Linked DNA regions of Homo sapiens: region 2 is linked to region 1. Evidence: fine-mapped expression QTL. A gene starts in region 1. The other region holds a variant in brackets. All regions are shown on one strand. Distances are from middle to middle.

Region 1 (5,388 bases):
GACAGAGGTTGCAGTGAGCCAAGATTGCACCAAACTGAGCCCTTGTCTCAAAAAAAAAAAAAAAAGAGTATAAAACACTGATGAATGATATTAAAATGGAAAGATATCCCATGCTCATGGACTGGCAGAATTAATATTGTTAAAATGTCCATAGTACTAAAAGCAGTCTACAGATTAAATGCAATCCATATCCAAATACCAATGACATTCTTCACAGAAATAGGAAAAAAAATCCTAAAATTTATATGGAACCACCAAAGACCCCGAGTAGCCAAAGCAATTTTGTGCAAAAAGAACAAAGGTGGAGGCATTGTACTACCAGACTTCAAAATATACTATAAAGCTATAGTAAACAAAACAGTAGGTTACTGGCATAAAAAGAGACACATAGATCAATGAAAAAGAGAATTGAGAAATAAATACATGCATTTATAGCCAATTTCATTTTTGACAAAGGCACTAAGAACATACATTGGAGAAATGACAGTTTCTTCAATAAATGGTGCTGAGAAAACTGGATATCCATACGCAGAAGAATGAAACTAAACCCCTGTCTCTCATCATATGCAAAAATCAAATGATAGTGGATTAAAGAGTTAAATGTATGACCTGAAACTATGAAACTACTTGAAGAAAACATTTGGAAATGCTTCAGAACATTGTTCTCGGCAAAAATTTTTTGGTAAGACCTCAAAAGCACAAGCAACAAAGGCAAAAATAGATGAATGGGATTACATCAAACGAAAAAGTTTCAGCACAGCAAAGTAAGCAATAACAGTGAAAAGACACCCAAAGAATAGGAGAAAATATTTGCAAACTACCCATCTGACAAGGAATTAATAACCAGAATATACAAGGAACTCAACAGTCAGAAAACAAAAAATTTGATTTAAAAAAATTGAGCAAATGATCTGAACAGACATTCCACAATAGAAGACATACAAATGGCCAATAGGTATACGATAAAATCTTCAACATCATTAATCATCAGACAAATGCAAATCAAAACCATAATGGGATATCATTTTACCCCTTAAAACAGCTATTATAAAAAAGGCAAAAAAATAACAAATGCTGGGATATAGAGAAAGGAGAACCCTCATACAACCTTGGTGGCAATGTAAACTAGTACAGCCACTGTGGAAAACAGTATGGAGGTTCCTCAAAAAATTGAAAACAGAATTACCATATGATCTAGCAATCTCACTGCTATATATATATCCAAAAGAAGGGAAATCCGTATATTGAAGATATCTCTGCACTCCCATTTTTATCGCAGCACTATTCACAATAGTCTAGATACAGAATCCACCTAAGTACCCATCAATGCATGAATAGATAATGAAAATTGTGGTATATATACACAATGGAATATTATTCAGACATAAAAAGAAGGAAATTTTGTCATTGCAGCAACAAAGATGGAACTGGAGGGCATTATGTTACATGAAATAAGCCAGGCACAGAAAGACAAATATCATGTTCTCACTCATACGCAGGAGCTAAGATAGTTGATCTCATGAAGATACGATGTAGAATGATGGTTACCAGAGGCTGCGAAGGGAAGTAGGGAGTGAGGAATGAAGAGAGGTTGGTTAATGGGTACAAAAATACAGTTAGGTAGAAGGATTAAGTCCTAGTGTTCAATAGCACAGTATGGTTACAAGTGTTAGCAATAATTTATTAGCTATCAGAATAGCTAGAAGATTTCGAATATTTGCAACACAAAGAAATGATAAATGAGGCGGTGGATATTGTAATTACCCCGATTTGATCATGACACATTGTATGCATATATCAAAATATCACATGTACCCCACAAATATGTACATTATGTACCAAAAAAAAAAACTAAAATAAGCAGCAAAAACCACTTCCAGCTAGCATGGTGCTTACGAAATGCCTAAGCTCAGTTATCAGCCAATGAGAGGCATTATAAGATCACCACCATAAAATGGAGGAACTGATGAACTGCAGTTTTCATCTTTAAAAAAATTTTTTGTCCCATTTCCTGTCTTTAGAAACTAGCCTCTGGGCTGGATGGGATTCCCAGCTTCTCCTGTAAAATGCAAAATTGAGGGCTCAAATTGTGGTTTCAATTTACACGTTTCACAGTCCTCTGAGAAGAGACTAAGGTTGGAGGATGCAGGAAGGCCTTAAATAATTCACCTTTTGACTCAAGTGCTCTGAAGATTCCCCAAGCATTTTTGGAAACAGAACACTACCTGGTTGAGACTGGGTTCAAGTACACCACACAGCTACGTTCTGGTGGTGCTCAAGGGGCAAATGCTGTGCTAAATACAAGTCAAGACTGGATTTTAGTGTGGCAAGGCGCATTAACTCAGAGGAAAAAGTGAGGATTTACATCCCACCTGCTAATACTGTGGGTAAACGGATTTCTCTCTCTGAATCTTTAATAGTCACATTTATTTTAATAGAGATGGTTAAGTCGAAAGGATGGTTACGATGATTAAATGAGCCAATAATGAAAACAGCATGTTTTGTAATAATAGAAGCAGCTCACCTTTATTGAGTCCTGTATCATACTTTACATCTATTACCCTATTCAGTACCCAAAGGCCCCCATCATTTGCCAGATGCGCGTCGAGCCGCACTGGGACCACCTACAGACGCTGGACCAGAGCCCACGTCCCTGCGGCTTTGGAGCGCCGCGTCTGCAGCGGCCAGCGCGCCTCACATGGCGGCTCCGGTCACGTCACACAATGCGGCTGCTCCGGGCGCCCACTGCCCAGCACCGCAGGCCTCCTCTGGCCGCCCCTCAAGCAGGTCGCGCAAACGCCATTCCGGGCAGGGGCGCCAGCGCAGCCAGCCAACCTCCCCACCAGGCGGCTCCCACCCAGGGCCCTCCGCGGAGGCCGCTCCGGGGCCAGGAGGCGGCTTCCAGGCTCGAGACCCCGCCTCCCAGGCCCTGCCCGCCCGCAAAAGCCTTCGACACACCTGCAGGGTCTCGGCCTCTGCTCCCGGCCCGCGCCGGGCCCAGGCCCCGCCCTTTGCGGCCCAGCCCAGACCCGGAGGCACCGGAGTCCTCTCCCCACCCTAGGGCGTAAGACCAAAAAAACGCCAATGCCAGAAAGAAGACACTGCACATGCGCAGAACGTTTCCCTAGCCCTACTCCAGAACTACGCTTCCCAGAAGGCCCGGCTGCGACTCCATCTTGGATGACGTCGTGAGGCGCGGCCGCCTCCAGCGGCCTGAGTGATTGCTGTCGGGTTTCCGGGAGAGGGCGCTGTCCTTGCTCAGTGATGGCCGGAGAGCTGCACCCTGCACGTCTGGGCTTGAAGACAGAAATCCACCGTGAGGTGCTCCAAGGAACACTGATGGGCAGTTTTGTTAAAGTGATTGAACTCCGTGGGTACAGGAGTACGTGGAGTAATGAAGGATAATGCCCTGTAACCGCTTCCTCTTAGGAATGCTAGCTTTCACAATTGTGCAAACGGTACGCGAAACGTAATAAACTACAAAATATGTATAAGCTAAAACAGAAAACGAGTATACCACTTCCCAAAAGCAAAAGCGCTTAATGTTAGGTGAACATCCTTCTCATGAATTTACACAAATTTTAACCTAATGGTATAGAGTATCATGACTATCATTTCACTAAGGAATATATATAGTCATCCCTCCTTATCCTGGGGGTGCATATCTATGGATTCAACTAAGCTCAGAATGAAAATACTTAAAAATTCTATCTTACTGAACATGTACAAAGTTTCCCCCTTGTCATTATACCCTAAACAATACAATAAAACTATTTACATAGTATTTACATTGTGTTAGGTGTACAATTAATCTAGACATAATTTAAAATATACAGGAGGAGGTGTGTAGGTTATGCAAATATCAGGTTATTTTCTACCAGAGACTTGAACATCCCTGGATTTGAGTAATCCAGGGAGGTCCTGGTACTAATCCCCCGCGGATACAGAGAGAGGACTTGGCTGTATATGTAAAACAAATTATATATTTCCTGGTCAATAACTTTATTACATTAAAACATGTAGAATCATCTAGAAAAAAACGTATATATTGTCATGTGTATAAACACACATATATATACATATAAAAATATGCGCACATAATACACACACACACACCACCTTTCTGGATGGGAAGTATTGAGGAAATAATTTAAAATAAAGCCTCTTGCCAACCCAGAAAATTCTCTCCACAGATGGAGAAAAGAACAAAACAGTTACATTATTGAATAAACATTAAACCAGACTGCGATGTGCGTCACAGGCAACCCACTAATGAGTTTATGAAGACAGGAAGAACTATCATTTTTTGTATTAGCCGGTCTGGTACAACGCATTCTATTTCCTCAAGGTAAAAATAACTTGTCCTCAAGTAAGATGACTGTACAGCAACATTTGCTATGCATAATTCATCTGAAATTCACCTGATAATTAGGGTAGCCATCAGTGTTAGTTAATTGCCATTATGCAAATGAAAAGTAAAGTTTCTGGTATCTCTATGACACGCAGGTAGTTAACCGCGGGTAGCCAGGAGCCTAGGAGTTTACCACAGAGGCAGGGAGATGGGGTGCAATCTTCCTTGATGCTTACATTTCAAAGACATGACCCAAGGCCATTAAGAAAGACCTTCCTGGGTTGTTAAACTAGCAAGAAGCTTATTTACTTTTTAAAAAGTTTTGCTATATCTCACAGGGACAGAGAAGGGATTTACAATTACAAGTTTTCTTAAGGAAATGCTGTAAGAAAAGAGAGGAGTAAAGGTCTTTTTCCCTTTTTGCAAGAAGGAAAATTCAGTTGTTTTATTTTTTTCTTTGAGACAGAGTCTGGCTTTGTCACCCAGACTGGGATGCAGTGGCATGATCCCGGCTCACTGCAACCTCTGCCTCCCAGGTTCAAGGAATTCTCTGCTTCAGCCTCCTGAGTAGCTGGGATTACAGTCGCCCACCACCACGCCTGGCTAATTTTTTTTGTATTTTTAGTAGAGACGGGATTTCACCATCTTGGCCAAGGTGGTCTTGAGCTCCTGACTTCGTGATCCACCTGCCTCAGCCTCCCAAAGTGCTGGGATTACAGGCGTGAGCCACTGCGCCCAGCCCAAATTTTTATATTTATATTTACCCTTAGAGAAACTATAAAATTTAACACAATTTCAATCAAAATTTAAATTAAAAAATCTTAACGGGGAGCTTAGTTTTGTTTTACTTGATAAAATAATTTTTAACTTCCTCAGGAAACAACCTCAGGGAATAGCAAGGAACTGAAGACTAAACTCTGATTTTTTTTATCTTATCCAAATTTCTATCTAAGGGGTCTGAGGAGTTATGCCCTACAAACCATAAATTCATATCAGATGGGTTTTATTTAACCCCATAAAATGTGACTTACTTTCCA
Region 2 (5,388 bases), 390 kb before region 1:
GTAACAAGAGGTTTCATAAGGTTAAACACCTCTTCTGAAATGTCATGGGTGCGGTGGAAACATGGGATTGGCTTTTTTCCAATTATCTCATCAGATCCTTATTTTACTATTAATACCCTAAAGGGGCTGGGCATGGTGGTTCCCGCCTGCAATCAGCACTTTGGGAGGCCGAGGCCGGTAGATCTTCTGGGGACCAGACTGTCCAACATGGTGAAACCCCGTCCCTACTAAAAATACAACAAATTAGCCGGGCGTAGTGGTGCGCCTGTAATCCCAGCTACTCGGTGCGCCTGTAATCCCAGCTACTCAGGAAGCTGAGGCAGGAGAATCGCTTGAACCCGGGAAACAAAGGTTTCGGTGAGCCAAGATCACACCACTGCACTCTAGCCTTGGCAACAAGAGGGAAACTCCGTTTCAAAAAAAAAAATCCAAAGTTTCATATATTATTATTTATTATTTTTTTATTTTTTTTAGCTTTGAAAGCAGATGCCATGCTTGTTCACTCTTATAGGCAGCTCTGAGTCTGAAGGTTCTGGCTGATGAGATTTGCACAACTAGTCTTGTGTTTTATGCCCAAAGTGCTGATTGTTTCTGTGTAAATTGGTGGTGGACATATTTAACTAACTTCCCCATAATATGAATTTGCAAATTTGTTCTTCGGGGAATGATTGGATACAACTCAACGTGATTTTCTCTCCTCTCTCCTTTTTCTAATTTTTGTTCAGACTAAAATGGCAAATGAATAACACATTATTTTTTCTGAACCATATCCATGACTCATTTGACTCACCCAATAACTATACAAGAAGCATTGAAATAGTATTGATTTCCTTATTCCCTAACTTTTCCTCCCCAGTATTTTTATATCCCAACAATGTATAAATATATACATTTCTCTATGGAGAGTAACACACTTAGACACACATGGAAGTATGGCTTCCATGAAGCCAAAGGATACTGAATTAATTTCCTAAAGTCACAAATAAAACTAGGGAAGAGCCAAGGATTCTCAGCTCAGACTTTTCTAATATTTAGTTCCCTACATTTTTTCAGCTATAGATATTGGACTAAATCTGATCTGGATTGGCTGAAAAATGTAATTTCCATGTAACTATATGATTGCAGCAGCAGCATTTTGAGATGTTTCTGGTCAGAGGAAGACACCAAGGGGCTAATATTTGTTGAACCTTTGAAATTCTGGCAGTTATTTTATATAATTCTTACAATAACATGTGAGATTACTGTTATGATGTTCCTTTCATAGGTGAGAAAACTGTGACACAGGTTAACTTGCCAGAGGTCATGTAGCCTTTGAATAGTAAGGATGGGATCAGACCCACACCATGCGCTGTGCCATTTGCCTATGACATTTAGGAGGCAATACCAGCAACTTTGTTGAGCGTGTTGGGATTGTAGGAGGGGTTAGACCAAGTTATCTGCCACACCCTTTTATGCCATGTCAGGTCTCCAGTGCTGCAAACTCAGCTTTGCATAATCTAATCTAAGCACTAGTGGAATTCAGGAAACTCACAAAGTGCTGGAGAGGTGCTCCTGCCAAACCATCATTCCATTATTGGGCCTTTCCAAGCTGGACCTATTAAAATTCCAAAGAAATTTTATTGCCGAATTGTTTCACTCAAAATGTTTGAATATCAAAGCCGCAAGACACATTTTCTTTCCAGAACGTATGCCTCAGCATAGTTTGTCTGTGTCTTCTACATAGTAAGTGCTCAGTAAATGTTGATGACTTAATGAACTTAATTTCCCTAAATTAGAAGGTAGGAAAATTAATATAGTACACGGTTAATCTATGGTAACCCTAATTGCTAAAGTCAGGAACCTTGTTTACTACTACACAAAAAGCCATTGTCAGAGCTGAGCATGCACTTCTGACTTTCAATTCCCTGGCTATGACCACTAATCCACAGCTCTTCCTTTTCTATTATTTCACAAAATAATTTATATGTACTAAAGGGCCAATGTGGACAACAACATGAATTAAGTAAAATGTCAGCTGTAAGCCTTGCATGGTTCTCTTTGGAGAAAGGCAGATTCATATGCAAGATCATTCTGGGTCAGATCTCACTAACACTCTGGCCATTCATGCATGTGTCACTGCCTCACCACCTGTACAGTTTCATTGCTGCATTGAGGGCAAAATGAACAGGCTTCTGTTTCATGGGTAAGCTCCCAGGAGAAAACTGCATATTGTTCATAATGCTATGCTTGTTCCAATAAAATTTATAAAAATATTTCTTTCTCACTTCCCATAGCTTTCTTGGATGCCTGTGAGTTACAATAAGAATGTTTTATATGTCAGGTCAGCATGTAAATCCGTCTGCAATCACTTCTTGGATGAAAACCAAGATTTAAGTGCTATTAAAATAAATATTTAAGTTTATTCATGAATTATGTAGTTTAACCTTTTTAGGATACAAAAACATTAAAATTATATTTTAATGAAAGGCTAAAGATATATGAAACAATTTAAAACAGCTATAGATCAGTAATTCTTCCTGATTTTGCAAAATTATCTTTCAAACTTTTATAAGTAGTGAATTTATTAATATATACACTGGTTAAATTTAGACTTATTTTTAATTGAGAAATTAAACTATACCACAATAGTTCGCATTTCCAATAACTAATAATTTTGTTCTAATTTAATATATTATCTTAGCAGCTCACATTTTGTTAATTCACTTAGAAACCAATTTATTTATGACCCACTGTTTACAAAACTGAATACTGGACACATGGGTACAAAGTTGATGTTGATCAACTCTGAAGGCAAAATATATCTCTCATTATTTACTTAATATCTTTATTTTATAATTTGAAATCTAAGAATATAAAAAATTCCTGTTTGTTATTTTTTAAAATTATACATACCTGTGTTTTAAATGAATACTTATGGATGTCAGAATCCTTTCGTATAACCTCTTGATATATATATTAGTCAAAAACAATGACAACAAAAATGCAAGAGAAAAATAAATAGAATAAAATAAAGTTCTTTACACCTTTCTTATAATTTGGGGTGGAATTTTCACTTTGTTACTCTGAAATCTTAGAGAATAGTCAAGCATCCAGAGTTATAATCAAATTGTTTAGGCAGGAACACAGCAAA[C/T]GCTCAGATATGTGAGACTATCTGATTACAGAATTCTTCTTTTTGAGTTTGTATATCTAAGGCTAAAGCCAAGGTATACTCTGCATTTTTAAAAATATGTTTCTCTAGCAGGATGTGCTGGTGCACACCTGTACTCCCAACTACTCAGGAGGTGGAAGCAGGAAGATCACTTGAGCTCAGGCAGGGCAACATAGAAAGACTCAGTCTTGAAAATAAATATAGATTTCTCTATGGAGAGTAACACACTTAGGTATGTATTTTAGAAAGACTAATTGTTAGGCCGGGTACGGTGGCTCATGCCTGTAATCCCAGCACTTTGGGAGGCCGAGGCGGGCGGATCACGAGATCAGGATATCAAGACCATCCTGGCTAACACAGTGAAACCCCGTCTCTACTAAAAATACAAAAAAATTAGCTGGGCTTGGTGGTGGGTGCCTGTAGTCCCAGCTACTTGGGAGGCTGAGGTGGGAGAATGGCGTGAACCTGGGAGGTAGAGCTTGCAGTGAGCCGAGATCGTGCCACTGCACTCCAACCTGGGCGACAGAGCAAGACTCTGTCTCAAAAAAAAAAAAAAGACTAATTGTTTCAGAACATAGAATGAAGCTGACCCAGATGGAAAGCAAAGATAACGATGAAAAGATTCATGTGGTAATCTAGGCCAGAAAGGACATTGCCTTGGGCAAAAGAAGTGACCATTTGGTTAGCAATGAGAAGACAAATTTTAAAAGTAGTTGGGACTCATTCTATGCACAAAAATTAACTCAAAGTAGATCATAGGCCCCAGTGTAAGAGCTTAAACATCTACAACTCCAAAAACAAATGTAGTGAATCTTCATAACCTTGGGCTAGGCAAAGTCATCTTTGATAGGATAATAAAAACACAGGCAACAAAAGAAAAAGTAAATACATTAGATCATCAGTTTTTAAAAATGTGTGTTTTAAAGGCTACCATCAAGAAAGTAAAAAGACAACCCACAGAATGGAAGAAATATTTTCTAAACATATATATGTGACTTGTAGGTAGAATATATAAAGAACTCTTACAAATTAACAATAAAAATTCAAAAGACACAGTTTAAAAATGGTCAAAGGATCTGAATAGATATTTCACCAAAGAAAATATACAACAACCAATGCGTACCCGAAAACATGCAAGACATAGTTAACCATCAGAAAAATGCAAACCAAAACTATAATGAGTTACTATTTGATACCTACTAGGATGGGTATAATAAAATCAGACAACCACACGTGTATGTGAAGATGTGGGGAAATTGGAACACTCGTAGACTGCTGGAAAATGTGTAAAATGGTGCAGTTACTTTGGAAAACAGTCTGGCAATCTCTCAAAAGGTTAAAAATAGAGTGATAATGGTAACATGACCCAGCACTTCCTCGTTTAGGTATGTACTTAAGATAAATGTAAACATATGTCCACACCCAAACTGTGCAAGAATGTCTGGCATTATTCTTAATAGCCAAAATGTGAAAACAGTTCAAATTTCTATCAGCTGATAAATGGATAAATATCCACACAGTAGAATTGTGGTTTTTATTTTCTTTTTTTGAGATGGAGTTTCGCTCTTGTCTCCCAGGCTAGAGTGCAATGGCACGATCTCGGCTCACTGCAACCTCCATCTCCCAGGTTCAAGCGATTCTCCTGCCTCAGCCTCCCAAGCAGCTGGGATTACAGGTGCCTGCCACCACGCCTGGCTAATTTTTGTATTTTCATAGAGACAGGTTTCACTATGTTGGCTAGGCTGGTCTTGAACTCCTGACCTCAAGTAATCTGCCCACCTCGGCCTCCCAACGTGCTGGGATTACAAGCATGAGCCACTATGCCCAGCCCATACAGTAGAATATTATTCAGCAATAAAAAGTACCAAAGTACTGATACTCGCTAAAACGTGGATGGACTTTAAAAATATTATGCTAAGTGAAAGAAATCAATTACAAAAGACCATATATTGTATTATTCCATTTATATACAACTTTCAGAATAGAAACATTTAGAGACAGAAAGAACAGTGGTTGCCTGGTGCTGGACACTTTGGGGAGAAATAGAGAGGGACTGCTTTCACGTACGGTGTTCCTTTTTTGTAGTGATGAAAATGTTTGAAAGTTGATTGTGGTGATAGTGGCACAACTTGTGAATATATTTTAAGAAAGGACTTGCATAGTTTAAATGGGTGAATCATACAGTGTGTGAATTATATCTCAATAAAACTATTATGTTACAAAAAATAATTTGGGAAGTA

Evidence for each region. PIP is the estimated chance that this variant, and not a neighbour inherited with it, causes the effect.
Region 2: its variant is the best candidate, but not a certain one, in a credible set for the expression of ZNF25 in whole blood (INTERVAL, PIP 0.80).

What each region holds. Positions count from the first base shown.
Region 1 is chr10:37,973,548-37,978,935 of GRCh38, forward strand. ZNF25 (zinc finger protein 25) reads right to left here and starts at 3,100. Exons shown (of 6, transcript NM_145011.4): 1 at 2,959-3,100. It overlaps ZNF25-DT (ZNF25 divergent transcript), which reads left to right and starts at 3,208. Exons shown (of 6, transcript XR_930830.4): 1 at 3,208-3,458. RefSeq lists enhancers at 1,984-2,073, 3,114-3,343 and a silencer at 2,664-3,073.
Region 2 is chr10:37,580,301-37,585,688 of GRCh38, forward strand. No RefSeq gene overlaps it. Among named protein-coding and RNA genes, the nearest start is that of LINC00993, 270 kb to the left of the region's middle. The variant C/T (reference allele first, on the strand shown) is at 3,131.